4 linked regions of the Homo sapiens genome follow. The protein of the gene in region 1 purifies or fractionates together with the protein of each later gene. This does not show direct contact. Each region holds a gene or a part of one and is shown in the gene's direction. Other genes may lie near its edges.

The links.
Region 2: the proteins of PFDN1 (region 1) and VBP1 purify together in Homo sapiens (affinity purification with mass spectrometry; 5 studies listed by BioGRID and IntAct, with this or other methods). This does not show direct contact.
Region 3: the proteins of PFDN1 (region 1) and PFDN5 purify together in Homo sapiens (affinity purification with mass spectrometry; 7 studies listed by BioGRID and IntAct, with this or other methods). This does not show direct contact.
Region 4: the proteins of PFDN1 (region 1) and TYMS purify together in Homo sapiens (co-immunoprecipitation; 2 studies listed by BioGRID and IntAct, with this or other methods). This does not show direct contact.

Annotation. Positions count from the first base shown.
Region 1 is NC_000005.10:140,279,087-140,286,110, reverse strand, and holds part of PFDN1 (prefoldin subunit 1), read left to right. Parts: intron 1-4,577; coding exon 4,578-4,662; intron 4,663-7,024. UniProt on the Homo sapiens protein: Binds specifically to cytosolic chaperonin (c-CPN) and transfers target proteins to it. Binds to nascent polypeptide chain and promotes folding in an environment in which there are many competing pathways for nonnative proteins.
Region 2 is NC_000023.11:155,212,589-155,219,479, forward strand, and holds the start of VBP1 (prefoldin subunit 3), read left to right. Parts: upstream 1-3,894; coding exon 3,895-3,987; intron 3,988-6,891. UniProt on the Homo sapiens protein: Binds specifically to cytosolic chaperonin (c-CPN) and transfers target proteins to it. Binds to nascent polypeptide chain and promotes folding in an environment in which there are many competing pathways for nonnative proteins.
Region 3 is NC_000012.12:53,291,011-53,298,548, forward strand, and holds the start of PFDN5 (prefoldin subunit 5), read left to right. Parts: upstream 1-4,531; 5' UTR 4,532-4,557; coding exon 4,558-4,629; intron 4,630-4,828; coding exon 4,829-4,931; intron 4,932-5,233; coding exon 5,234-5,265; intron 5,266-6,839; coding exon 6,840-6,914; intron 6,915-7,034; coding exon 7,035-7,140; intron 7,141-7,538. Other genes in the region: ESPL1 (separin), read left to right, coding at 680-850, 974-1,078, 1,268-1,383, 1,564-1,647, 1,796-1,960, 2,263-2,464. UniProt on the Homo sapiens protein: Binds specifically to cytosolic chaperonin (c-CPN) and transfers target proteins to it. Binds to nascent polypeptide chain and promotes folding in an environment in which there are many competing pathways for nonnative proteins.
Region 4 is NC_000018.10:653,604-660,655, forward strand, and holds the start of TYMS (thymidylate synthase), read left to right. Parts: upstream 1-4,049; 5' UTR 4,050-4,139; coding exon 4,140-4,344; exon of another isoform or gene 4,345-4,688; intron 4,689-6,037; coding exon 6,038-6,111; intron 6,112-7,052. UniProt on the Homo sapiens protein: Catalyzes the reductive methylation of 2'-deoxyuridine 5'-monophosphate (dUMP) to thymidine 5'-monophosphate (dTMP), using the cosubstrate, 5,10- methylenetetrahydrofolate (CH2H4folate) as a 1-carbon donor and reductant and contributes to the de novo mitochondrial thymidylate biosynthesis pathway.

The DNA of each region.
Region 1 (7,024 bases):
ACTTGAGTTTTTACTTACTTACTAACTTACTATATTGACATCTTTACATGTCAATAAAAAAAATATTTTTTTTTAAATTTCGGTTTGGTTTTTTATTTAATTAGTCATTCTTTTTTAAAAAAATTTATTTATTTTTTAGACATGGGGCATTGCTATGTTGCCTGGGCTGGACTTGAACTCTTGGATTTAAGCAATCCTCACACCTCAGCTTTCTGAGTAGCTAGGACTACAGGTGCATGCCATTATGCCTGGCTGCCCCCTTGGTTTTATCTCCTGTTTTGTATCCTATTTCTGTGCCAGTGTGGATACTTAAGGTCTCCAGGATTCAGCATAAACTCTCAGGATGAAAGCCAATTTACTGCTGTCTTACATTCCTGAATTCCCAGTTTCACTTCACTTTGGACCTTTGTGGAATCCTTCCTTTTGTGTTAGTTCAACAAAATGTTAAAAAAAAATTTTTTTTTCCTTTGTTTCTAATCAGGAGTGTTCAGGGTATCTACTCTTCATTATGCCAATAACAGAAGTCTGTAACTCACTGAGCAGTCCACAATGTGGATGTGCCATAAAGTTTTAATCACTTCCTTACTAAGGAAGTGATTAAAGTAAGAAATAAATTCAATTTAAAAAAATTTTAAAAAAAGAAGTTCAATTTATTTCTACTTGCTTCCACGCTAAAAATTACGACGTAAAAATTCAGTAACTTTCCTCACCAGTGGAGTTAGGCAAAGAAGCAAGATAGGCTCATTCTTTTTTTTTTTTTTTTGAGATGGAGTCTCGCTCTGTTGCCCAGGCTGGAGTGCAGTGGCGCGATCTCGGCTCACTGCAAACTCCACCTCCCGGGTTCACGCCATTCTCCTGAAGATAGGCTCATTCTTATGTCTTTTCTATGCTGCTTAATTTGTGAATACCCTGAAACCTAAATGCTAATAGGATACGTTTTTAGACACCCTCTAAAAATTTCCCACCCAAAGTGAACTCGTCATAAGCATTTTGTTGTTTCTGAATAGCATATGTCTAGGTGACCATACTTTGGAAATTGTGTCCAAAATGCAGCAGTGCAAGTGATCTGGGATTGTGTTTTGGGCAGGTGAACAATGGTTTTGATTCATACTGAGTTATAAGAAAGTGGAAGTTGTACCAAACTGCAGGATGATTTAGAAAACGGAGTCTGATGTTTCTCAAATAATCAAAACCGAAAGTCTCAGAATTATGTTTTCAGATGGCATAATTACAAATAAATGAGGAAGTGAAATAGCAGGTTACAAGTCCTTGAGAGTGGACAGTGCAGAGGCACGTGGCACTGATTTCCAGGTCAAAGAAGAGGCCTTTTGCAAAGCATCAACTCGAATTCAGGTTATATAATCCTGAGTATTTTAAGCATGTTATCTGCATATTATTTGTCATGAGAGAATACTTTCCCTCTTCATGGTTTATTTTTCCTTATTGGTACATTTTGAACTCCAGAATTCTTTATTTACTATTTGGCTTTCCATAAACAATCAGGCAGAATGACTATGAGATTCTCTACATTGAGCAACTGTGTACATAATATTTGCTTATGATAAGACTTATATTATCATGATAAATCCTTTCTCTTCACATAGTATCTGATAATCCAATGCCCTTTTAAACAATAAGAAAGATGTTTTCCAAAGACTTTTTTTCAGAAATCAGATGTTTCTTGGAGCCTTTTCCAGTCTTCATACAATATATCTTTGCCATTTTTTAAATTGAGGACTAAACCAAACTTTCCATAAGTTTTTGTGTTTGAATTTTTACTGTGTAACTACTCTTTGAGGTAGACATTTGCATTTACCCAACATTCATCCTTGTTAAAACTTGCGTGGCTGAGATGTCCTTAGGTTTGTAGTAGTAAGTTGGCCAGCTTCGGTGGAATCTCTCTGGCCTTTGAAGTTGGCACAGTCCAGTATAGCTACCTCAAAGGATATGTGGTCATGGAAAAACGTGTTTTTGTTGTTGAGTGTTCTTGCTTTCTAGTAATTTTATTTTCTGCTCAAGAGATTTAGTATCTGTTCAGATACTTTATTTTTAAAGGCCACATAAGTAATGACTTGACCTCTAATCTTAGCTTTGAAATTTTCCCAGACACTAATAAAGATGATGTCTGATGACCTTTTATTTGAGAATAGTACTCATTGGCCAGCTATCAGTGCTACTTAAAAATGTATATTTTACTCAAAAAATTATTTCCATGGCTAAAAGACTTTCTCAGTAAAATCACACATGTCATGACATAATTTGGTGACTCTTGCACCTTGTTTTAGAATAGTTTTTACATAACATTACTGAGACTTAGTACTGTTCAAAACAACTCTTCTCTTCAAATACAAATATGAGTTAGTTCTGAGAAAAATATTCTGTAAACCATAATCTTATCTGAAATAGCACCCATCTCTTGGATCCAGTAAGAATATTTTAGACATGAAGGGTTCTATAGTAAAAGACCTGGAATTAATCCTTGTTTTGCATGAATGTGGGCTCTCTTTCCTGTAAATATACAGTAAGGTTTTACAAAGAATCAAGTTACTACTGAAGACTAAGATCATCAGTTGGGCTGGGCTGGGCGTGGTGGCTCATGCCTGTAATCCCAGCACTTTGGGAGGCCGAGGCGGGCAGATCACGAGGTCAGGAAATCGAGACCATCCTGGCTAACATGGTGAAACCCTGTCTCTACTAAAAAATAGAAAAAATTAGCCAGGCGTGGTGGTGGGCGCCTGTAGTCCCAGCTACTCGGGAGGCTGAGGCAGGAGAATGGCATGAACCCGGGAGGTGGAGCTTGCAGTGAGCCAAGATCATGCCACTGCACTCCAGCCTGGGCAACAGAGCGAGACTCCGTCTCAAAAAAAAAAATTATCTGGGCTGGCCGCATTAGGATATAAGCTTAATAATTAGTGGAGTAAAAGAAGTTCTTCAGATTTTATTAATATGTGTGGTAAGGCTTAGTTATGAAGAAGAGGGGACAAGGCAGTTTCCTTCCAGGTGTTGGGGCATAGCTAATTGCCCTTTTTGGTCTGTTTTTACTTGTCTTATATCTATAATAACGGACTCTCTTGATAAGAACCCACCTAGGCACAATGATGTTTTTGTGGGGTTGGCAGAGGAAACTGCATGTTGCTACCTTGATGTGTTTTCTCGTTTGACTTTTTGTTAAGAGATGATGTTTAGTTCTTTGTTGCTGAACTCTGTTAGTGCAAAGAGAAGAAAAATCTTGCTTAATTAATTGCAATATTAAATTGAAATATATTTTAGCTTCCTTAGACAGTCCTGAAAGAGATTTGCATAACTGGGGTCTTCCCTTGGTTCCAGTGGAGGGGAAATATTTCAGTTCACTTACTTGGGGCTATAAAAGTTTGTTCTTCCTTTCCCTGAAGCAAGAATTGTGAACATAAAGTCATAAAACAGTTTCAGTGTTAATTTTTAAAACTTCTCCATATTTCCACCCTCATCAGTGGTAAATAATGTGCCTGATGTAAAATGGAAAAAGTTGAAAATTTCCACTTGTACATTTTGAGCTTTTCAGAGGTACTATATACACTCTGGAAATAATAATAAAAGATACTAAGGCTTATACAGTGCTTTTTGTTTGAGGAACTCATATAAACACTAATGCATTGATCCTAACACAGTGCTTGATTGTGACTTTAAAAGGTCATGAGTTACTGCTGTTACAAAAAAAAAAAAAAAATGGAGGGGCGCTCCACTTTACAAATATAGTTTAAAAAATATCTAGATAAAAATTGAAACAGATAACTGAAAAAACAAAACTTATAGGGTATTTGTTTGTATGTTGACTTTTCTCTTAGCGTATGATATATTTTTATTCCTTTATTATTTTTTCTTTTACATATGAATCTACTTGAAGCCTGATTTTCTTTTCTTTTTTTTTTTTTTTTTAATGTTTTTAAGACAGGATCTTGCTCTGTTACCCAAGCTGGAGTGCAGTAGCACAATCATGGCTCACTACAGCTTTGATATCTCAGTCTCAATTGATCCTCCCACCTCAGCCTCCCTAGTAGCTGGGACTACAGGCGTGTGCCACTGTGCCTGACTAATATTTTAAATTTATTTTTTGTAGAGATGGGTCTCATCATGTTGCCTGGGCTAGTCTTGAACTCCCAGGCTCAAGCAGTCCTCCTGCCTCGGCCTCTCAGAGTGCTGGGATTACAGGTGTGAGCCACTGTGCCCAACTCCCGCAACCCCCCCGCTTTTTTTTTTAATGAGACAGGGTCTTGCTATGTTGCCCAGACTAGACTCAGACACCTGGGCTCAAACAATCCTCCCACCTCAGCCTCCTGAGTATCTGGGACTGTAGGCCCACACCACTGTTCCCTGCCTGATTCCTATATTAAATAAGAAAGCAGAATCTACTTTTAAGCCTTTATTCCTTCTCAGCCAAGAAGGTTTAAACTTCTGGTGGTTTCCTGAGCTTGACGTATTATGTTAATATGCATTTGTCCTTTTAATTTGCTCAGTTTAATATTTGTAGTATGTAGCTATTGATTTCGATGAATTCAATAGTCATGTGGCTTAATTTTCAACTTTCTTGTGTTTCATAGGTTTATTCTTCAGTCCAAGGAAGCAATTCACAGTCAGCTGTTAGAGAAGCAGAAAATAGCAGAAGAAAAAATTAAAGAACTAGAAGTAAGTTTTTATTGGCAATAGGAGTTAACTTTTGGGAGAAAGTAGTAATCTTATTGTGTCATATTAAATGAAAATGTATGCCTGCCTGCCAAAGTAATGTCATATTATTTTTATTTTCTATAATTACGTTGGAGCCGTGAAGCTGTCATATTCATATTCATAGCGCATATAAGACCAAAACAAAAAAAAAAGAATAGTCTCTTCTTTGGAACTGCAGAGAATTTTGATGAGATGGTTTTAACCTGAATGTATTTTGTTCATTGCCCTTGAATGTGTTTATTCTTTAAAAAAAACAAAACCATAAACAAAATGTAATGTATATTTAAACAACACTTGTGTAGTGGATTGTGGTGGATGGGCAGGAGAGTGGGTAATAATGATAAATTTTAGAGGATCTTGGTATAGGGTCTTTTTTACACATTGTAATTTCTTTAACCTAAATTAGGTTCTATATAAGGACAAAGTAGCAAGCTATAACCAATTAACTATCTGAAGGATGGTGCTCCAATGAGAACAATTTTTTCTTTTTAGCTAGGGAAAAAGATGATAGGTAACAGTAAGCAAATCTTTGGAAATATTACTTTATTATTTTTATTATTATAATTTATTTATACATTAAGACCTTTAGTGAGATATTCTTCTTGGGCTTTGGTGAAAGGCCCATCCTGTGTATAGTAAAAGTTAGACTGGACAAAAAGCTGGTTATTTCTTAGGGACCAAGATTTCCCAACATGTGGGTGGATACATTGACTTCATAGGTCATTTCATCTAATTTCTGTAAGTACTATTTGAGGCAGAGGATCAGAATCTAACTCAGCCCTCTGCTGAATTTGGGAGCTACAACTTGTAGCCTCCTGAGGATTTCTTAGGGGCACTGAATTGGCCTGGCCTGGGAGTATGCAGTATCTTAGGTTACTTAGGCTTATTTTTAACTACTGATAGTTGAAACAAACTTGATAATAGATTTGCAGCTTAGAAAAGTGTATTGTAAAAACAAGACAAAAAAGCAAAAAAACCAAGTAAAGAAAAAACAGCCTGTGATAACCAGATTGTTGTTGTGTCCTATTTTAACATTTTAATCAGCTCAACTGTTCTAAGAGGTTCAGTTTGATATCTGTGTTTTCACTCATAAGAAACAAAAGTATCTTTAAAAACCCAAACAGAATCATTTCATGTAGATAAAACAAAATGCATTTTTGCAACTGTAGGTAAATATATTTAAAATTATCCTAATGAATAATAAGTAGCAAGGTAATATGTATATAATTCTCTTTATGAAAACAAAAAACAAACATTTGTGTATGAATATTGAAGATGATATGTAAGGATATATATTAAATTGTTAATACTGTTTACCCTAAAGAAATTAGATGGGACGTAGGGATAAATGATTTTTTCTTTTTCTTTCTTTCTTTTCTTTTCTTTTCTTTTTTTGTTTTTTTTTTTTTTTTTTGAGACGGAGTTTCGCTCTTGTTGCCCAGGCTGAAGTGCAATGGTGTGATCTCGGCTCACTGCTACCTCCGCCTCCTGGCTTCAAGCGATTCTCCTGTCTCAGCTTCCCAAGTAGCTGGGATTACAGGCATGCGCCACCACGCCCTGCTAATTTTGTGTTTTTAGTAGAGATGGGATTTCTCCTTGTTGGTCAGGCTGGTCTCGAACTCCCGACCTCAGATGATCTGCCTGCCTCGGCCTCCCAAGTGCTGGGAATCATAGGCCACTGCGCCTGGCCTTGATTTTTTTCTTACAATCTCTGTAATAATAAATTATAACAAGTATACATTAACTTTTTTTGTTGTTAACTTTCATGATTAAAAAATTAGCAGAGTGGGCACAGTGGCAAATGCTTGTAGTCCCAGCTACGGGAGGCTGAAGCGGGAGGATTGCCTGAGGCATTCCAGCCTGCGCAACATAACAAGACCTTGTCTCTTTAGGGAAAAAAAAAAACACAAAAACCCCAATTATCAAGGTGAAATTGCCACAGGTGATGATTTTATCAATACCGTACTGCTGAGTTCTGGTGAATATTAAGAAATTTACTTTCTGCAAGTTTCCTTTTGTTGAGTGTCTCAAATACTGGTAGAATGTTTTATCTTTTAGGAAGTTCTTTTTTCTTTTTTAATTTTTCATTTTACATGTTACTTACATTATAAAAGCAATAGAAGTACACCATAAATAAAATATAAAACAAATGATTAAACAATGAAAATATTACTTTGTTTTTCCACCCTCGGTACATCCAAATGTCACCTCTACGGTTTCTGTATCATTCCAAACTTCTATATTTATATCAAGACATTCATACATGCATATATATACACAACCTTTTTTTAAAATAGGAATTATGCTATATATACTGTTTTCC
Region 2 (6,891 bases), on another chromosome or scaffold:
CATTTCACATGTGAGGACACTGAGCTAGATAGGTGAAGACACTTGTCTAATGAGGCACAGCCTGTTAAATGACAGGGTTAAACTAGAACCCAAGTTCTAGGGCCTATTACACAGTGGCAAGCCTAGAAATGGATTCTGGAAATAAAGCAGGGTAATGTCTGGGAGTCCCCAGGGCCATCATTCTGGCAGATGAGGTGGTGGGGTGGGGGTTGCAGAAGGGTTAGTTCCCTGAACAAAGGACCTCTCCACATCACCTTGGATAAATAACATCAGTCCCAGGAAAAAGGAAATCACATTGCCACATTTTACCTTGTCTAGGAAAATCCTACCTTGTCCTCTCTTGTATAAACAGAGCAAAAACACTGAAGATACAATAACAATACACAGTGAGAACACTACCAGCACACTCAACAACCCAGGGTAGTGAGTATGGAGGCCCATTGGCATGTCTGGAAATAGAATACACATGTATTCTGACTTACTAGGAAATAGCCCCAAGAGGCTGGGGTGGCTTAGCATGCAGGAGCACTATCACAGTTGAGTGCCCTCCAGGGGAGTTCCAAAGCCCCTAGGGGAAACTGCACTTTCTGCTCTCAGAAGTCAGGATTAGAAACTGAATCAGAAGGTCGAGCAGAGGCTGTCTCAGAACATCCTGAAATGCTTGGCATCTCTCTGAAGGCCTTGGGCTCTTTCCCAGTGGGCTTCCTGGGAGGAAATGACCCCAGTGACCAGGCTCAGGAAAAAGGAGACACATTCCCCCAGCCTCAGGATTTGCAGCTCTTCAGAGTAATTTCAGAGGCTTGTGGAGATTGGGACAGAACCTGTTACCTGCACAAAGCTTCCAGGCAAAGATGGAGTGAGAGTTGTTGTCGGTTCCCGGCTGTACAAATTTAAGTCAACTCTTGGTTATCTGGGTTCTGGAAGTTGCTAAGGATATCACCCTCTTCTTCCAGGGGACTCCAATTGTATGTCACATCATTTTCTTCCTTCTCTGCAGAGCACATTAGTGTGACATTTACAGGTACTATTCACTGAAGTCATTAAACTCTGGCTTCCCAAAATATGAGCCAGTGGTGCACCAGAGCTGGCTTGTACCAGCTTGTGAGAACCAATTGTTAAATTTCTAGAAATTCTGCAAGATGGTTGTTAAACACAGCCATCATTTAAAATTAAATTATAAAAATTTACAATTAAATTCTTTTAAAGGCAAAGGTAATAAATATTCAAAATTTATCACCTTCTAATTATTTTTCGACATTTGAATGTTACCTATGCTCTTGAGGTTATTTACATCGATTGTATCTGTGTGCTACTGGGCATGTCCTCCCAACTCGACATGGATTGAAATCAGCCATTGTGGGAGTATCCAGGCTACAGAAATTGGTAGATGCTACAAACTACGGCTTGATCTATGTTTGTCACTCTAGACTTGAAAGCAATGGAGAAAATGTTACTAATGCAGATTCAGCTTAAAAGTGAGTTGTGTCTGTAGCCATTATTGTGAACAGCACCATAAAATGAGGCAATATTTTTCTGGTATTTGAAAACCATTATCCAATTCAGCAAATAAATCACTCACATTGTTGATGAATGATCCAAGTACCAATATAAAAATAATTGTTGAATTACTTTTTTCTTATTACTTAACATAAATGAAAATATCAAGCAACATTCATGTCAGAACTACACTAGTTCATCAATTGCAACTGTAGGTTGTCTAGGGAGATATGTATTTGGCAAAAATCAAAAGCATCCTGTCAGAATTGGTTATACAGAATTAACGATAAAGAGTATTGTATATTTTATTATCACTTATGAAATTGTGTGCTATACACCTTTTACATCAATACAATTTATAATAAATATATACCCCCTTTCTAAAGAGAATTAGTTGAACATTTATCAGCACAACACTACGTGAAATGATTGTTTAAGTTGTTCTGTTTCCTGTTGTATGCGTATTTTCTTTACATTTTGTTTTGTTTTGTTTCAAAAGTGTCCATGGTGAAAAACTACAACCTTTTAAAGTCTGTTTTAAAAAATGCTTTTATTAAAGCAATCTAAAGATAAGCTGTAAAAGGTGTGGGCTACTGAAGGGTTGCTAAAGACCAATCATATTTAGTCAGGTAATAGCTAGATTTGGATCTGGCAAGAGGAAGGTTTTTTTTTTTTTCTTTTCCTTTTTTTTTTTGCTAAGAGATAAGAAAATGACCACCTATAGAGTTGATAAGGTTAGTGTACTCTTGGAAAAGCTGCTGCAGCCATGGCAGGAAGGAAAGAATTGGTATACAACTTTCTAATTAAGAGAACACTAGAAAGGAAATATATTCAGCAGTATAAATAAGGGAATCTTCTGTTTGTACCTGTAAGGGAGTAAAACATGAGCGATAAGCTGATAAGGCTTTTGGCTCCAAAAGAAAAACCTGGCCCGAAGTGTCAAATACTATATCTCTTAGAGGGATTTATTCCAAATTAAAATTAGTGATAATTTGGAGAAATATTTCCTAAAGTTTGAAGTAAGTCCTTGATTGGTTCTAACAATGATTAATATAGATAGGGATCAGTGAAGTTGAACAAAATTTGCATGTGTATCTGATATCTCAATGTTTTTCTGTAGAAACGTTACCTACTTTTCAAAAACAAAATTTTTTTTTGGAAGGCACTGAGGTGGGGGAGAGTGGTGAAGAATAGAATTCCCATATACTTTTCTCTCCAGGAACAGAGACATTATCTTACAAAACTGCTGACCAGAAAAGGTCAGAGTCATGGTTAGCTAACATGTCTTCATCCTCCCAAGCCAAATCGCATAGAAGCCACTGGAGAACTAGTTTGGAATTCCGGCTTCACTACTATGTAGTTGTAGGATTTTGGAGGAGCTGTACAGGTTCACTGAGCTTTAGTTTCCTCATTCACAATATGACGATACCAATTTCTTCCTCATATTATATCTAAAGACATATCTATGTCTATATGCTTGATCGTACATTATGTGCGGAGATAAACCGGTAACAGTGATTGCCTCTGAGAAGAGAGACTTACTTTCCATTGCGTAATTCTTAGGCTCATGGTAGAATTTGTGCAAGTGGATGAAGCACTGCCTCACTGGGAAACACTCCAGTGAAATAAAGCACAGAAAAGAGCCCGAAGAATAATTACTTGGTTCTGTATGACACATGTGCTTTTAAAGGGTTGTAGTGTAGGATGACATTGGGTAAGTCCATGGGCCTAGAAGCCTAGGTGGAGTTCTTAGGATTTTGTATGTAGACTATGAAGTTTTGGAAACGTTTGAGCTGGAGAGAAGACATTCTGATCAAAGGTGGCTTTCAGGAAAGGCTGGTGCGACAGGCAGGGTATTTATTAGAATGAGGCCAGTGACCACTCTGAAACAGACACAAAGTAAGTTCCCTTCAAGGGGCAGGAAGCTCCCTGGGATGGTGAGACCAGAAAGGCACAGAGGCTGAACCCTCGTGATGGCGCTAGGTCCCAGGTTCGCTAGCATCCGAGAGAGGGGATTGGGTCGCTCCAGAGGCCATTGCGAAGGCTGCTGCCAGTTCTAGGGTCGGGGTGGGGTCAGGCTAGGTCCCTATTCCTAGGGCTTTAGCACCGCTCACTCACAAGACCCCTTTTCCCAGGAGGACGTATGGGTTTTTCCTGTCGCTCCAGCTTCTCTTTCGCGGCCCTTCCACGCTTGTCACTTACCTGAGCGCAGCCAATCAGCACCTAGAGGTTGGGCTACTTTCGGCCAAAGGAGAACGGGGACTTGTGGGGGACGCTCCCTGCGCACCAATGAATGTGCATGGAGATGGAGAGGCGGGCCTGCAAGTGCGAACAAGCCAATCACGGAATCCCGGCGGCCGGCGGCCCGGGAGGCAGTCGCGCGCTCGCATCCCCAAGATGGCGGCCGTTAAGGACAGTTGTGGCAAAGGAGAAATGGCCACAGGGAATGGGCGGCGGCTCCACCTGGGGATTCCTGAGGCCGTGTTTGTGGTAAGAGGCACGCTGTTCCCTGGCATCTTGGCTTGAGGCCTTGGACTGCCCCTTTCTTCCCGGCTCCCACCCAGGCCTCGACTGTTGGAAGGAGCTGAGCCAAGTGTTCAGGGAGGGGGCGCTCGGTCTGCTCTCACCCCTCGCACCTGGACAGATTGAGCTCTGCTGGGGGCCCGCCCGGAAGAAACGTAGCTCGAGAAGGCCGTAGAAGAGAACGGGGTGCGGGGCCGGGACGAGGGGCGAGGGGCGAGGGGCGGCGGGTGGCAGGGCAGGGCGGCCTGAGGGACCTCCGGGCTGCCGCCGGTTTTCGTCCCCCTGCTGGTTGGAAAAGGGGAGGTGGTGAGGAGCTCTCGACTCAGCATGGATGCTGGAGACACAGTACAATGAATAGGCAGAACAGCCAGTGCTAAGATGTGAAAACCGGGAATATCACTTTGTCTGTTGAAGGAATGCAGTGGTCTCGGGAATGTTGCCTCGGGAAATGGAAGAAGAGACCGATGGGAAAATAGGATGATAGGTTGGGAGTGTAAAGTCCTTCTGTGTCTTGCTAAGGAATTGAGGTTTTCCAGTAGGCAACGGGCTGTCATCAGAAGGCCTTTCGTTTTAACTACATCATTCTAACAACTTAGTGGAGAATGAATTGTTGAGAGAGGAGGCTGAACCCTCCTGATGGCGCTAGGTCCCAGGTTCGCTAGTGTCCTAGAGGGGATCGGGTTGCTCCACAGGCCGTTCTGGAGGGCGCTGCCTGTGCTGGGTGGCTTTTTAAAAATTTTATTTTATTTATTTAATTTAGAAATAGTAGTTGAAAACTATTTGACTAATGAGAGAAAACATCTGACTGGCCCTCCAGGCCAGGTCATCTGTCTGTCCCCACTTAGCTACTATAAAATCTTCATGGAAGTTTCTCAATCTTTTGGTTTGTACCTTACCTTACCTCTGCCTTTTTTTTACTAACTACGTCTTATATCCTTCTAAAGACTCATTTATTTATACCACACTTGATATTGTATATTCGCATTTGCTGATTGAATTTCGTAATTGGTTATTATTTTGTGTTTTTATGAGCTGTGTCATTTATTTCTCTACATTGATCTATTATCTAACCATAACAAGGAATAAAATTTGTTGAGTGCCAGGCACTTTCTTAATGATTTTACAAAACTCGAGGTGGTAGCTACTACTGTTATGCCCGTTTTTTAGATGATAAAACTGAGGTACGGGGCACTTGAGTAACTTGCCCCAGGCCACACAGGATGTAAGTGAGGTATCCAGGGTTTGAACTTGGACAATCCGTGGAGGTCCAGACTGGCAGCTTACCCCTCATGCTCTGCTACTGGGAGGAGGTGAGGTAGTTCTCATGAATCGCCCTACTTCTCCTGGTCATAGCATAGTGCCTCACACATAGTATAAGCTCAAACTAAGTGTCTAATTGAATTTCCATAGGGCCTTAAATGTTACATTCATGGTGCTCAGCTAGAGATGGCGTCAGAAATCTAACTCGGGAGGAGACACTTTATCTGAGGGCTTTATAATGTCTTGAAATGCTTTTTCCCTACAATGTCGTGGTTATTTTTTTCTAGACCTTAAAATTTCTACCAACATAATGTAATAAGCAACCCAAATTTTATATAACTGTTTATGTTTCCAAACTATTAATAATTGAAGTGACATGGTATTGTAGAAAGATTATTGGCCTCTAAATAGACCAGGGTCTGAATCCTGGCTCTGCTTCCCAGTTGCTGCTTAACCTTAAGCATATTATTTTACCACTTTGAGCTTGAGTTTCTTTAACTGAAATAGGGATGACAATACTTAGAGAGTTGTTATGGGAAACAGAGAACATGCTTGCAGTATTGCAGTGTAGTAGGTGTCGAATAGGTATTAATATTCATGATGATAGGAAGCAATATACCATAGTGGTTAGAAGTCAGACCCAGTCCATTCCCCAACCCCGCTGAGGCAGTAATTTGTTTTCTTTCTCTGCTTGAATTGTTGTTTCACCCTTGTCCATTTCATGACCTCTTCATCTTTCCACATCTAGTTCAGATATCATCTCCCTGTAGTTTTCTCTGACCTCTACCCCAAAACAAAATCCCTGGCACTTTGTGTCCCTGTGGCACATTATGCTATACATAGGTGTCACGTACTCTTATAAGCGTTTCACATATGCTAACTCATTTAATCCCTGGTGACGAAAAGGTACTTGTACAGATGATGAGGAAATTGAGGCAAAGAGAGGTTAAATAACTTCCCTAAGGTCAACTCATCTAATGAGTGGCGAAGCTGGGATTCAAACCAGGCACCTCCTGTCTCTTAACCACAGCCTATGCCGCTATAGTTAATTCTTGCTAAACTCCAGCACCTGATAACATGTATCATGTGCCAGAAACTTACACTTCTTTCTCTTCCCTGCAGTGACCCTTCTAGGAAGATGGCATCTCTCTTTAACATACAGAACTCAGCCATTATCTCTCAGCCTCACCTTTTCAATTTCCTTTACTGTCTAGTTTGATGGCTTCTTAGTTCACTCCCTTGCTGTGTTTCTCTTCCTTTTTCTTCCTTGTTTCAGCTAAGATATTCTCTGGTAGCTAGTAAATATGGATAAGAATAATGATGTGAAGATCTTAGAAGCTATAAGATAATTGAAGTTACTTATAATAAAGAACTAGAGTTCTGTAAAGTACTAGACGACTCTTGTAGCATCTCTTTTAAGTTTCATATATTTTCATCTTGTTTCTGATCCTTATCTAATTAACTAGCCTTTCTTCAAGGATCAGCATGTGGTATAAAAAATATTTTAACATCAGTTTTACTGCTTTTCTTTTGATCAGTTATTACTGTTACAAAAGATTATTCTGTTTGCCTTTTAGGTTTACTTTGTTTCAGTTATTTGATACTGAAGGA
Region 3 (7,538 bases), on another chromosome or scaffold:
CAGGGAAGGGGGCCAGGCCCAGTGGCTTGCACCTGTAATCCCAGCACTTTGGGAGGCCAAGGCAGATGGATTGCTTGAGCTCAGGAGCTCGAGACCAGCCTGGCCAACATGGTGAAACCCTGTCTCTACGAAAATACAAAAATTAGCTGGGCATGGTGGCAGGCACCTGTAATTCCAGCTTCTCGGGAGGCTGTAGCAGGAGAATTGCTTGAACCTGGGAGGCGGAGGTTGCAGTGAGCTGAGATCGCCGCACTCCAGCCTGGGTGACAGAGTGAGACTCCATCTCAAAAAAAAAAAAAAGGATAGGCCCCTTGGCTTACGCCTATAATCCCAGCACTTTGGGAGGCCGAGGCAGGTGGGTCACAAGGTCAAGAGGTGAAGACCATCCTGGCCAACAGGGTGAAACCCCATCTCTACTAAAAATACAAAAATTAGCTGGGCTTGGTGGCACATGCCTGTAGTCCGAGCTACTCAGGAGGCTGAGGCAGGAGAATCGCTTGAACCTGGGAGGTGGAGGTTGCAGTGAGCTGAGATTGCGCCACTGCACTCCAGCCTGGGCGACAGAGCAAGACTCTGTCAAAAAAAAAAGAAAACAGGGAAAGGGAAGAAACTGGACTTAATCCTTTCCCAGCAGCTATCATGAATGAAGATGGTGCTCACCACCACTGTTTCCCTGCAGATCATGCTCAGTGGTGCCGGTGCCCTCACCCCTCAGGACATTCAGGCCCTGGCCTACGGGCTGTGCCCAACCCAGCCAGAGCGAGCCCAGGAGCTCCTGAATGAGGCAGTAGGACGTCTACAGGGCCTGACAGTACCAAGCAATAGCCACCTTGTCTTGGTCCTAGACAAGGTAAGGAGCTGGGGCAGAGGGGCAGTGTCTAGTGGGGAGTGAATACCAACTCATCCCCATGCCCCTTCTGACTTCTGCATATACCTGGCTGGGGACAGTAACCTCTTAGTGCTTTTTGCCCAGGACTTGCAGAAGCTGCCGTGGGAAAGCATGCCCAGCCTCCAAGCACTGCCTGTCACCCGGCTGCCCTCCTTCCGCTTCCTACTCAGCTACTCCATCATCAAAGAGGTGGGGTTCAGGGCGTAGTGTCTGGGGATGACTGGCGACTGGGGAAGACGTCAACAAAGAAGGGCAGAGAAACCTGAGAAGATAGGAGAGGGTCCTAGGAATGGCTCAGACATGGAAAGGGGCTGAGATTGTTAGAGCTTGGGCCTCTTGGTGAGACAAGCATCCTAATCGCCAGTGTCTCCTCCTCAGTATGGGGCCTCGCCAGTGCTGAGTCAAGGGGTGGATCCACGAAGTACCTTCTATGTCCTGAACCCTCACAATAACCTGTCAAGCACAGAGGAGCAATTTCGAGCCAATTTCAGCAGGTCAGGGGCGCGAAGACAAGAAGACGTGTGGGGAAGGGTAGACAACATACAGGGGCAACAAGCCTTTTCTCCAGAAACAGCTGTTGCAGCCCACCTTCTATCTAATGATCCCTCTGCTGTCTTTGCCACCTGACCCCTGCCATGCATTTCCCTATTCTCACACCTGCCTTTTCCCTGCAGTGAAGCTGGCTGGAGAGGAGTGGTTGGGGAGGTGCCAAGACCTGAACAGGTGCAGGAAGCCCTGACAAAGCATGATTTGTATATGTGAGTGCTTAAGGCAGGGATGTGGGGAGAGGGGCAGTCCTGAGGATGGTATCACCATGGGTTGCTTTGGGACTTGAGAGCCTCTGAAGACACAGGCAGAGGCCAGGTATTACTAGCTCAAGACTCATCTCACCTCCTTCTGCCTTAGCTATGCAGGGCATGGGGCTGGTGCCCGCTTCCTTGATGGGCAGGCTGTCCTGCGGCTGAGCTGTCGGGCAGTGGCCCTGCTGTTTGGCTGTAGCAGTGCGGCCCTGGCTGTGCGTGGAAACCTGGAGGGGGCTGGCATCGTGCTCAAGTACATCATGGCTGGTTGGTGAGTCTCCAAGGGCAAGACCCATCCTAGGGCATTAGGACTCCTGCCCTCACCCCAGGTTCTTTCCCAGGTCTGAATCTTGCCTCTCTTGTGCCCCATTTTCCTCCTATCCTAGTTAGTTCCCTGGCATGCCTGGACCATTAACCCTTAGCTCCCTTCTGTTCTTCTCTTGTAACCAAGGGCCAAAGGAGTTTCTCATTGGTTCAATCCTCTCCACTCACCCACCCCCACCACCAATGGTGTTTTCCTATGTATTCTGTTTTAGAGCCCTTACTTTGTATTTCCTCCTTTTCTTTTCCCAGCCCCTTGTTTCTGGGTAATCTCTGGGATGTGACTGACCGCGACATTGACCGCTACACGGAAGCTCTGCTGCAAGGCTGGCTTGGAGCAGGCCCAGGGGCCCCCCTTCTCTACTATGTAAACCAGGCCCGCCAAGCTCCCCGACTCAAGTATCTTATTGGGGCTGCACCTATAGCCTATGGCTTGCCTGTCTCTCTGCGGTAACCCCATGGAGCTGTCTTATTGATGCTAGAAGCCTCATAACTGTTCTACCTCCAAGGTTAGATTTAATCCTTAGGATAACTCTTTTAAAGTGATTTTCCCCAGTGTTTTATATGAAACATTTCCTTTTGATTTAACCTCAGTATAATAAAGATACATCATTTAAACCCTGTTTTGCGTAGTTTATCTGAGAACATTTAAAGACACGGCATGACTGCCCCCTTCCTACTATGTGGTACTGTAAGCTGACAGGAACAGGTTACAGCAGATCAAGTTTGAGTGCTTGGGGAAGAAAGGCAAAGACACAGGACAAAGCCTGCTGGGCCTGGCTGGGCCTCAGCAGACAAATCTGGAGGAGAAAGGGGCATCAAAATGCTAAGTAGAGACAGGCCCAAGGAAGGGTAGTGATAGACCCTTTGAGAGTGTTTTGGCCAGGTACCATCCGTCCGTCCTGTCTTCCTGCCGCAGGTATCTTTGGAGTGGCACTAGTGTTTTGTTTTTTGTTTTTGTTTTTTTTTGAGACAGAGTCTTGCTCTGTTGCCCATGCTGGAGTGCAGTGGCGCAATCTCGGCTCACTGCAACCTCTGCCTGCTGGGTTCAAGCGATTCTCCTGCCTCAGCCTCCTGAGTAGCTGGAACTACAGGCACATGCCGCCACGTCCCACTAATTTTTGCATTTTTAGTAGAGACAGGGTTTCACCATATTGGCCAGGCTGGTCTCGAACTCCTGACCTTGTGATCCACCCTCCTCAGCCTCCCAAAGTGCTGGGATTACAGGCGTGAGCCACCGCGCCCAGCCATGGCACTAGTTTTAATGCCTCAGTTGCCCTGCCTGCCTCCTAAGTAGATGTTAAAGGCTACTGCTGTCTGCCCATGTACACCTGTTACACTTACCAATGTGTAACTTTAGCAGTAGAGTCTGTGGATCTGTGGAGTTCTAGTGTGGTTTTTCTCTCCAATTGTTAAGCTCAAGGGAAGCAAGTATCTTACACTCTCACGTATCCCTCACATACAGCACATGGTAAAACCTTTTTTTTTTTGAGACAGAGTCTAGCTCTGTTGCTAGTGTGCACAATCACAGCCTACTGCAGCCTCAACTCTCCAGCTCAAGCGATCCTCCCACCTCAGCCTCCCATGTAGCTGGGACTACAGGCGTGTGCCACCAGCCCGGCTAATTTTTGTATTTTTTGTGGAGACGGGGTGTCGCCGTGTTGCCCAAGCTGGTCTCAAACTCCTGGGCTCAAGCAATCTGTCCTTCTCGGCCTCCCAAAGTGCTGGGATTGCAGGCGTGAGCCACCATGCCCGGCCAAAATATTTTATTGATTAATTTGTGCTGTACTTGGTTGACAATGGCGCTTCCTTGCTGTTCTCCCACCACCTCACTGGCAACGGGTGATAAACCCTTTTTCAGATCCTACTACGTGTCAGCCTACTTCCGGCTGGGGGAAGATGGTTATAGCGAGAGGGGAAGAATTGGTTCAGTGATGAGAACATGGTTGGTTCCTGCCTTCGACAAGCTTTCAATCTAATGCCTGTTTTTTTCCAAGGACAATTCAGAACGGTCTGACAAGGGATTTTTTTTTTTTTCCTGCCTTTCGGCCTCAGAGGCCATCTGGGAAAAAGAGTTTAGAATTTCCCTGCCATTTCCATGCCGTGCTGGGAGGAACATTTGAAATCGGGCCTGGCGGGGTACCAGCAGGCAGCAATAGCAAGCGGGGTGGAGAGGAGCAGGGCCAGGCCCCCGAGCCGTCGCCATGGCAATCCAGCCTGCTTTCCAGTAGCTTATACCACCCACGTGGAGTAGCATACACTACTTTGTAATATCGTGGTTGTGTCGTGAGAACTTTAAGATTTTGCAGTTCCTTGTAGGCAGGAGTCCTGTTTGCTGCTACTTTACAATACTAGGCTTAAGACATTTTATGAAATGAACTCACACAACAGTCTCTGAGAGGCTCAAGCCCCTCCTTCCCTTCCGGGACGGAGGATCATAGAGCTGTCTGGCGCAGCGAGGCCTCCCGGCGCCACCGAGACGCGCAGAGGACGGCTAGAGCGTTGCTCGCCGAGAGACTTCCTCTTCGTTAAGTCGGCCTTCCCAACATGGCGCAGTCTATTAACATCACGGAGCTGAATCTGCCGCAGCTAGAAATGCTCAAGAACCAGCTGGACCAGGTGGGGACGGGCCCCAGAGGCACCTCTTTCCTGCTCTACATCCCCCTTGCCCACGCGTACTTCTCGCGCCCGGTTCCAAGTTGGCAGCCTACCTTTCCCAGGCGAAACCTCTATCCGATCCCAGGACCTGCCCCCTCCCCGGCCGCGCTCCTTTCTCCCCTTAGTCCTCTCATTGACCCGCTATCCCGGTCCTCTGTAGGAAGTGGAGTTCTTGTCCACGTCCATTGCTCAGCTCAAAGTGGTACAGACCAAGTATGTGGAAGCCAAGGACTGTCTGAACGTGCTGAACAAGAGCAACGAGGGTATGGGGTAGGCGGGTGAGGGTAACCTAAAGTGGCGAACCTGCTTCTCTCGTCCCACCTCCTAACCCAGTTTTTCTTACCTGAAACGAGAAAATCCATTACATATCGTATACCGCTTCATGAACCCTTTGCATGTTGCCTGCCTAGAATTGAAAAGTACAGGACATTCCTCTGCTCCTATTGCCCCTGTTTCCGTTCTTTTCACACTGTCTGTGGGTGCTGTGCCCTGTTGGAACTCTCTTTAACGTCTTACGTTGGAGCCGCTAACCTTCCCCAGGTGTTTGTCTTCATTGCTTTCACAGGGAAAGAATTACTCGTCCCACTGACGAGTTCTGTATCCTTTCCACAGGAACGGCTACCTGCTGCCTTCTCCCTTTCTCCTTCACTCCCCCAAAAAGCGGGGAGGGGGATTGTTTTGATTACTTCAGATTACCCTCTCCTCACAATGATTTTGAGGATACCCTTTTTTTTTTTCTTTCTTTTTTGAGACGGAATTTCGCTCTGTCGCCCAGGCTGGAGCGCAATGGTGAGATCTTGGCTTACTGCAACCTCCGCCTCCCGAGTTCAAGAGATTCTTCTGCCTCAGTCTCCCGAGTAGCTGGGACTTTAGGTACGCGCCACCACGACCGGCTAATTTTTGTATTAATAGTAGAGTTGGGGGTTTCACCATATTGGCCAGGCTAGTCTCGAACTCCTGACCTCGTGATCCGCCTGCCTCGGCCTCCCAAAGTGCTAGGATTACATTACAGGCGTGAGCCACTGCCCCCGGCCAAGAATACTCTTATTACACACTTTGTAGCTCTTTTATCTGACTTCACACCAACATCCAGCTAATGTCTTGTGAACACCAAGGAGTATGTATAGTTGAGATGTAATATTTCCCTTTGCTGTTTGAGAACATTAATATGGAGATAAAGCTGGTGGTTTACACTTTGCTAATATCTTAGAAGATACAGGCAATAGACAAAAATAGGAGGATATAGAAACAGGGAGCTTGGCTCTGTTAATCTTCAACTTCAGCTTAATTGTGGCTCATTTCTAAACTGTCACTAAGAAACCTGGATTGTGTTCACTTGTTCAGTGTTTTATTTGAATGAGCAAGTTATGGCAGTAGGGCATCTTTAATCTGTAGTCTCAGAACTGACAGGCTAAAAGGAACACAGGAATAGTAGTGTGTAGTAGGGAATGGTTTAAAAAAAAAAATTAGCCAGGCACAGTGGTTCACGCCTGTAATCCCAGCACTTTGGGAGGCCAAGGCTGGCAGATCACCTGAGGTCAGGAGTTAGAGATCGGTCTGGCCAACATGGTGAAACCCTGTCTTTACTAAATATACAAAAATTAGCCAGGCGTGGTGGCACATGCTTGTAATCCCAGCTACTCCGGCGACTGAGACAGGAGAATTGCTTTAACCCGAGAGGCAGAGGTTGCAGTGAGCCGATAGCGGGCAATTGCACTCCAACCTGGGCGATAGAGCGAGACTCTGTCTCAGAAAGCAAAAAACAAACAAAACATTGACTTTGTCAGGAATTAGCTACTTCATGATTGAGGGCATTAAGGGAAATGAGGCTGGCTTTTTACTTGTAGTACTCTACAACAGTAGGAAAACATGTCTAGTCTTTCTGGAGGGGCTAATGGGAAGAATTGCAAGAACTGCTTAGAGAGTGAGAGATGGGATGAGGCAGGACAAGAGGGTGTTCCAGCATACATCATTTTCTCCTTAAAGAACCAACTTCTCTGTCTTCTTTCCATTTGGAGTTATAGGTATTGTTCTAAGGCCTCCAGATTATTCAGTCCTTATGCCTTGTAGCTTTTTGGAAAAAGAGGGTCTTTGGAGGCCAAGCAGGCTGGCTGGCGGAATCATGGCTCATGCTGGGCTGGCTAGTTTTTCCCTTAATTCTTGCTTCTCAGATGTATGTCCCTGGGAAGCTGCATGATGTGGAACACGTGCTCATCGATGTGGGAACTGGGTACTATGTAGAGAAGGTGAGTGAGAGCATGTGGATGCCCCTCTAAACAGGGAAGGGAAATTCAGGGGAAGCTCTAGAGCGCAGCATGGCCAGAGGGAGTCTCCTTTTAGCCCCTTATTCACCTCTGATCTTGTAGACAGCTGAGGATGCCAAGGACTTCTTCAAGAGGAAGATAGATTTTCTAACCAAGCAGATGGAGAAAATCCAACCAGCTCTTCAGGAGAAGCACGCCATGAAACAGGGTAAGTTTTTCCTGGGGCACCTCTTGACCCTATCTCCATAATAAGGAACATGGATTGCAGTGTGAACCACGGGGGTGTCCCCTTTGCTGGAGTAAAACTATGTCTTAGTTTCTCTTTGGCATCTTTAGAATCTGTGTATTGCATAATCACTATCTGTAGATTCCTGGGTTGAGCGTTTGAGAAATTTAGAGGAAGGAAATCATGTTTGTGCTTTGGTGGAGCTCCTATTTAATGACGATGGAATGGGGGAATGAGATGAACACACAGGAAGGAATCATGATCCAAACGAACTAAATACCAGCAATTATAACCCCGACTGCACATGAGAATCACTCAGGAAGTTTAAAAAGAAAGCTTGGGCCCATTCCAGATTGACTAAATCAACTTGGAAGTCAAAG
Region 4 (7,052 bases), on another chromosome or scaffold:
TGGGGGATGTTTTTATAGATGCAAGCACTGTGGCACCTACTGGTATAAATGCACCTGCTGATTGGAATGTTCTTTCCCCAGATCTTCCCCTGCTGGTTTCTTCCCAGTATTCAGGTCTCAGCTCAAATGTGACTTCCTCAATGAGGCCTCCTGGTGATCAGATCTAAAGCACCCTCTACACAATCACTGTTTAGTGCTATACCCATTAATTTACTATCATCACACTTGTCACTATCTGCAGATGTCTTGTTTGGTTACTTTTGTAGTGTTTGTCACTGCCAGAATATCAGTTCTATGAAGAAAAGGGCCTTGTCTGTCTTGCTGTTTGTAGACATGAGGAAGGCACCATGATATAAATGTGTGTTAATGAATGAATGAATGAAATTTGTCTGAGAGAACCATTCATTCTAACCAACATTTATGGAGTAACTACTTTGAAAAGAACCATTCTGTCTTTACTATCAAGCCAAGATACTCAAGGAAGGCAGCAGAAGTGGAAGCTCCATGTGGGCAGAGGAGCCTAGTCTTGAGATGTGATTTAGCTGGTATTTGGGTGAAACAAATAAACCAGCCTCAAAATAACACAAGGGGCCGGGTGCAGTGGCTCACGCCTGTATCCCAGCACTTTGGGAGGCTCGAGGCAGGCAGATTACTTCAGGTGAGGAGTTCGAGACCAGCCTGGCTAACATGGTGAACCTCCATCTCTACTAAAAATACAAAAACTAGCTGGGCATGGTGATGGGTGCCTGTAATCCCAGTTACTCGGGAGGCTGAGGCAGGAGAATTGCTTGAGCCTGGGAGGCAGAGGTTGCAGTGAGCTGAGATTCTGCCACTGCACTCCAGCCTGGGTGACAGAGCGAGACTCCGTCGAAAAGAAAAAAAGAAAGAAAGAAAAAAAACACACAAGGATGTGCAACTGATGCAGGGCAGGTGAGCCCAGAATTGGGCTTAGCTCAGGAGGGTTCTTGGTTTTGCTCAGGAAAGAATTTAAGAGCTACCTGGTAGAAGAAAAGCTCTACTGATATGGCAACAGCTCCCTGAGTGCCCCTGTAGAGCAGAGCTACCCTATAGGCAGTGTGCTGACAGCAGTAGCTTAAAGGCAGGTCTGCAGTGATATTTATAACCTACTTTCAATTACATGCAAATTAAGGGGCAGATTATGCAGAAATGTCTAGAAAAAGGGTGGTAACTTCCGGTTGTCGGCTCACTGCCATGGAAAGGGGCAGTAAGCTCTGGATGTTGCCATGACAATCGTAAACTGACATGGCACACTGGTGGGCACGTCTTATGGAAAACTACTTCTGCCCCATCCTTGTTTTGACTACTCCTCAATTTGGTCCCATGTCAGAGCCCTGCCTCCAGAGTCAAGCCCTGTCTACCTCACAATTATTATGTATCAGGTTTTTAAAAAATAACACAAGTAAGGCTGGGCATGGTGGCTCACGCCTTTAATCCCAGCACTTTGGGAGGCCGAGGTGGGCAGATCACTTCAGATCAGAAGTCTGAGACAAGCCTGACCAACATGGTGAAACCCTGTCTCTCCTAAAAATGCAAAAAAAAAAAAAAAGAAAAAAAAATTAGCTGGGCATGGTGGCAGGCGCCTATAGTTCCAGCTACTTGGGAGGCTGAGGCAGAATTGCTTGAACCCATGCAGCGGAGTTTGCAGTGAGCTGAGCACCACTGCACTGCAGCCTGAGGGACAGAGCAAGATTCCACCTCAAAAAAAAAAAAAAAAAAAAAAAAGGAAAAAGAATAACACAAGGAAATTAAACACAGATAACGTGCATCTGGATAATCTGGAATATTTTCAGCCTGGGATCTTCCTCGTGCTCGGAAACGTGTAGGGAAACGTGTAGGGACAGTTTTCAGCTGGTGTGGGGTGGGGGAATGCCAACATATGGTTGGCTTTCCACAGTCCTGCTAAAGCCCTGCAATGTGCAGAACAAACCGGTCCAGCTAAGAAAAGTCCCACCCAAAATGCTGAGAGCACCTCTGTACTCAATCAACCGTTGAGGTAAAAGGATGCTTGCAAGTACAACACATGTATCAGTGCATTTTAAACTCATTATAAAATCGTTCTGTAAACCAAAAATAAAATTCTACGCCCAGAACCATCTGAAAAGACCACTCCTCTGGGTCAAAGGCATTCCAAATTTAACCACAAAAACTAGTTCAGGCCATGATGGGAAGGGGAGCCAGACATGCCTCATTATTCCCTCCTCCGTTTGGAATTTAGGCACAGCTGACCAGCATTGACATCAACACAGGCCTCAAGACAGGTAGAACACACTCTTTAAGTCTGACAAGAAACATTTACAATCTATCTCTCTAAAGCCTGCTACCTGGAGGTTTAATCTGCATGATGAATCCATGGTCTCCACAACCCCTTATCTTAACCCAGATATTCCTTTCTATTCATTCAAATCTTTTTTTTTTTTTTCCCCATACGGCTCTGTCACCCAGACTGGAGTGCAGTGGCGCTTTCTCAGCTACTGCAAGCAACCTCCGCCTCCTGGGTTCAAGCGATTCTCCTACCTCAGCCTCCTGAGTACCTGGGGTTACAGGCGTGTGCCACCTCGCCCCACTAATTTTTGTATTTTCAGTAGAGAGGGTTTCACTATGTTGGCCAGGATGGTCTCAATCTCCTGACCTCGTGATCTGCCCGCCTCGACCTCCCAAGTGCTGGGATTACAGGCGTGAGCCACCGCGCCCAGCCCTCTATTGATTCCAGATCTTTAGATAACAATTCTTTCAACCAAATGTATAAAAAATCAAGTTGTAGCCCAACCACCTTGGGGACATGTTCTCAGGATCTGCTGAGGGCTCTATCACCGGCCATTGGTCACTCATATTTGGCTCAGAATAAATTTCTTCAGATATTTTACAGAGTTTAACTCTTTTCATCAACAGTTCCCACTCCCCAGTGTTAATGTTATAAACAATTCAGTAAAACTGGGAAATGTGGTCTATTAAAAACTTGGGGCCGAGTGCGGTGGCTCACGCCTGTAATCCCAGCACTTTGGGAGGCCAATGTGGGTGGATCACCTGAGGTCAGGAGTTTGAGACCAGCCTGGCTAACATGGCGAAACCCCGTCTCTACTAAACATGAAAAAAAAAAATTAGCCGGGCGTGGTGGCGGCGCCTGTAGTCCCAGCTACGCGAGAGGCTGAGGCAGCAGAATTGCTTGAACCCAGGAGGCGGAGGTTGCAGTGAGCCGAGATCGCACCATTGCACTCCAGCCTGGGTGAGAGAGCGAGACTCTGTCTCAAAAAAAAAAAAAAAAGACCGCCAGGGCTCAAACAAAAAACCTCGGAAAAGCCCTGGCGGTCTTTTTTTTTTTTTTTTTTTTTTTTTTGGGACAGTCTTGCTCTGTCGCCCAGGCTGGAGTACAATGGTCGGATCTTGGCTCACTGCAACCTCTGCCTCCCAGGTTCAAGCAATTCTTCTGCCTCAGCCTCCCAAGTAGCCACCACGCCCAGCTAATTTTTGTACTTTTAGTAGAGACGGGGGTTTCACCATGTTGTCCAGGCTGGTCTTGAACTCCTGACCTCAGGTGATCCACCCGCCTCGGCCCCCCAAAGTACTAGGATTACAGGCGTGAGCCACCGCGTCCAGCGCCCTGGCGGTTTTTAATCAAGTAGAAAAGCTGCATTATACCACTTGCTTCGGTTGCTTCAGTGAGAACGAAGAAATGGAAATGCAAATCCCTTATTAGTTGTAGGAAACAGATCTCAAACAGCAGTTTTGTTGACAAGACCGCAGGAAAACGTGGGAACTGTGCTGCTGGCTTAGAGAAGGCGCGGTCGACCAGACGGTTCCCAAAGGGCGCAGTCCTTCCCAGCCACCGCACCTGCATCCAGGTTCCCGGGTTTCCTAAGACTCTCAGCTGTGGCCCTGGGCTCCGTTCTGTGCCACACCCGTGGCTCCTGCGTTTCCCCCTGGCGCACGCTCTCTAGAGCGGGGGCCGCCGCGACCCCGCCGAGCAGGAAGAGGCGGAGCGCGGGACGGCCGCGGGAAAAGGCGCGCGGAAGGGGTCCTGCCACCGCGCCACTTGGCCTGCCTCCGTCCCGCCGCGCCACTTGGCCTGCCTCCGTCCCGCCGCGCCACTTCGCCTGCCTCCGTCCCCCGCCCGCCGCGCCATGCCTGTGGCCGGCTCGGAGCTGCCGCGCCGGCCCTTGCCCCCCGCCGCACAGGAGCGGGACGCCGAGCCGCGTCCGCCGCACGGGGAGCTGCAGTACCTGGGGCAGATCCAACACATCCTCCGCTGCGGCGTCAGGAAGGACGACCGCACGGGCACCGGCACCCTGTCGGTATTCGGCATGCAGGCGCGCTACAGCCTGAGAGGTGACGCCGCGGGCCCCTGCGGGACGGGTGGCGGGAAGGAGGGAGGCGCGGCTGGGGAGAGCGCTCGGGAGCTGCCGGGCGCTGCGGACCCCGTTTAGTCCTAACCTCAATCCTGCGAGGGAGGGGACGCATCGTCCTCCTCGCCTTACAGACGCCGAAACGGAGGGTCCCATTAGGGACGTGACTGGCGCGGGCAACACACACAGCAGCGACAGCCGGGAGGTAAGCCGCGTCCCAGCGGCTCCGCGGCCGGGCTCGCAGTCGCCCCAGTGATGCCGTGGCCCCCGAGGCGGGCGTCATCGGGCAGCGTTTGCCCAGTGCTGGAGGGTTAGGGAGAGCTGCCTGGGCTTGACCGCGCGCCGGTCTCAAAGTCCTGGCTTTGGCCCCTCCTCCGTTTTCCCCTGTGGACCATTCCGCTTCGCAGCGTTTTCAAAAACTGGAGCGAAAGTGATGTGGGCGGGGCAAAGGCGGCGGGAAGAGGAGAGCACTGAAGCTGGCGCGGGAACTTGGTTTCCTGGTGGCCTCCCATCCAATCCCCACGAACCAGCTTTCCTCTTAAACCTTGAAAAGAGAAATTCGGGAGTTCGAGTATAAGTTCTTAGTCGTCCTTTCCTCTTTCCTTTCCGACAGGAGCACCCCAGGCAAAAAATGTCTCGCGGGTCATTGGCGCCAGGCTTTCAGGGGACAGTGGGGCGGGGCGGGGTGGGCACAGGACGTTAGGCAGCCGTTGGCCCTCCCTAAGGCCACACCGTCCTGCCGTCCTGGATCCTGCGCCAGCTGCGCGGGGGAGGGGACTCGAAGGTGTGTGAGCCAGGGGCTGACCTTGACCGCTCAGATAAATGGAGCGCAGCCTTGACACAGGGGTGGAGGTGGTTTTGAATGGGGAAACCCATTCGTGGTGAAGCAGATTCACTGTAGCTAGCGGAAAAGCCCTCCGGCCCACGGACCCATCTAGAGACGAATACATAGCAGCTGCTGTGGCTGATTGGCGTGGGACAGCGTGGGGAGTTTTGTCTGAGGAGAGGGATCCACTTTTCTGCAGCTCCAAGCCCAGGGGCCTTTGATGAGCCATAGACCTCATTTTTAACCCACCTTTCTGCTTAGACATTGAGCAAGTTACTTCTCATATAGCTTCCCTATATGTTAAAAATGGAGAAAATAATGCTTAGTAGGCAATTCTGATAAAAGCAGGTGCTTGCAAAAATCTCTCTGTTGTCTGAATATAAACTGTACCACAAGCGAGTGCGGATGAACGAGGACTGCATTTAAAGATAAGTTTTTACACTTTCATTTCTCTGTGGCTCGACACTTCTGATGCCTCCCTTTTTGTTCCTGGGACACATGCTTGGTGTTGTCTTCACACCTTTGTGACAGGATTAGCACTAGTGGGCAGTGGATGATAGCTCCTCCCTTTTGCCACATGTTCATCCCTGCCCTCGCCACCATCTCACTGTGTGGAATTCCTGTGTCCACTGGTCACCGGGGCACAGAAGTGCTGTCTCAGCCTGAATCGGGCCACTGATGGGACTTGCAGCCTGGGAGCTCCACCGTGATCTCTGGCCCACTTTGCGGGAGTCTAGGCTTTCTGGATGCTCCAGGGCCTCACGTCCCAGGGCAGTTTTCTTCCCTGAAGAAAGTTGGATGGCATGATCTGTCTTCCCATCTTGAAACCGTATGGCAAATTGTTTTTCAGATGAATTCCCTCTGCTGACAACCAAACGTGTGTTCTGGAAGGGTGTTTTGGAGGAGTTGCTGTGGTTTATCAAGGTAAAGAAGTCGCTGCTATTAGAAGTCAGTAGTCTGTTCTCAACACAGCAGCCAGTGAGATCCTTTCAAAACTCAAAGCAGCCAGGTGTGGTGGCTCACGCCTGTAATCCCACCACTTTGGGAGGCTGAGTCAGATCACCTGAGGTTAGGAATTTGAGACCAGCCTGGCCAACATGGCGACACCCCAGTCTCTACTAATAACACAAAAAATTAGCCAGGTGTGCTGGTGCATGTCTGTAATCCTAGCTACTCAGGAGGCTGAGGCATGAGAATTGCTCACGAGGCGGAGGTTGTAGTGAGCTGAGATCGTGGCACTGTACTCCAGCCTGGGCGACAGAGGGAGAACCCATGTCAAAAACAAAAAAAGACACCACCAAAGGTCAAAGCATATCATTCCTCACCCTCAAGCCCTTAGTGGCTCCATTTCACTCAGTAAGAGCCACGGTCCTTATGGTGTCCGTTTTTCAGCTCTGACCTTAGCTGCTGCTCTCTGCACCAGCCCTGCTGTTCTTGTGAGTTTTTGAGCACACCGGGACATCCCCACTCCCTGGAACCTTCTTCCCCCACACTTGGCTTCTTCCTTTGAGTCTCTACTCCACTCGGGCAAGCCTTCCTAGACCTCCTGATTTAAAACTGTGACTCTCCCCCAACCTCCTTGGTGTTTCTCCATAGACGAACATCACCATCTGATGTATGTCAGCCTTTCCCTTCCCCTGTTAGAAGGGGGACAGCAGGTAGTAAAAGTGAAATGTGCTGTAAGCTTTATGAGGGCAGAGGATTTGTTTCTCGTGTTCACTGTTGTATCGCCAGGGCCTCAAACACAGCCTGCCACATAGTAGGAGTCAACATATATTGATCACTAAATGTAGATACCACCTGTGTTCCCATGTTCATATAAATTCTAGAAGAGTCTCTTCAGTAACAAGGTGAACCCCTTCCAG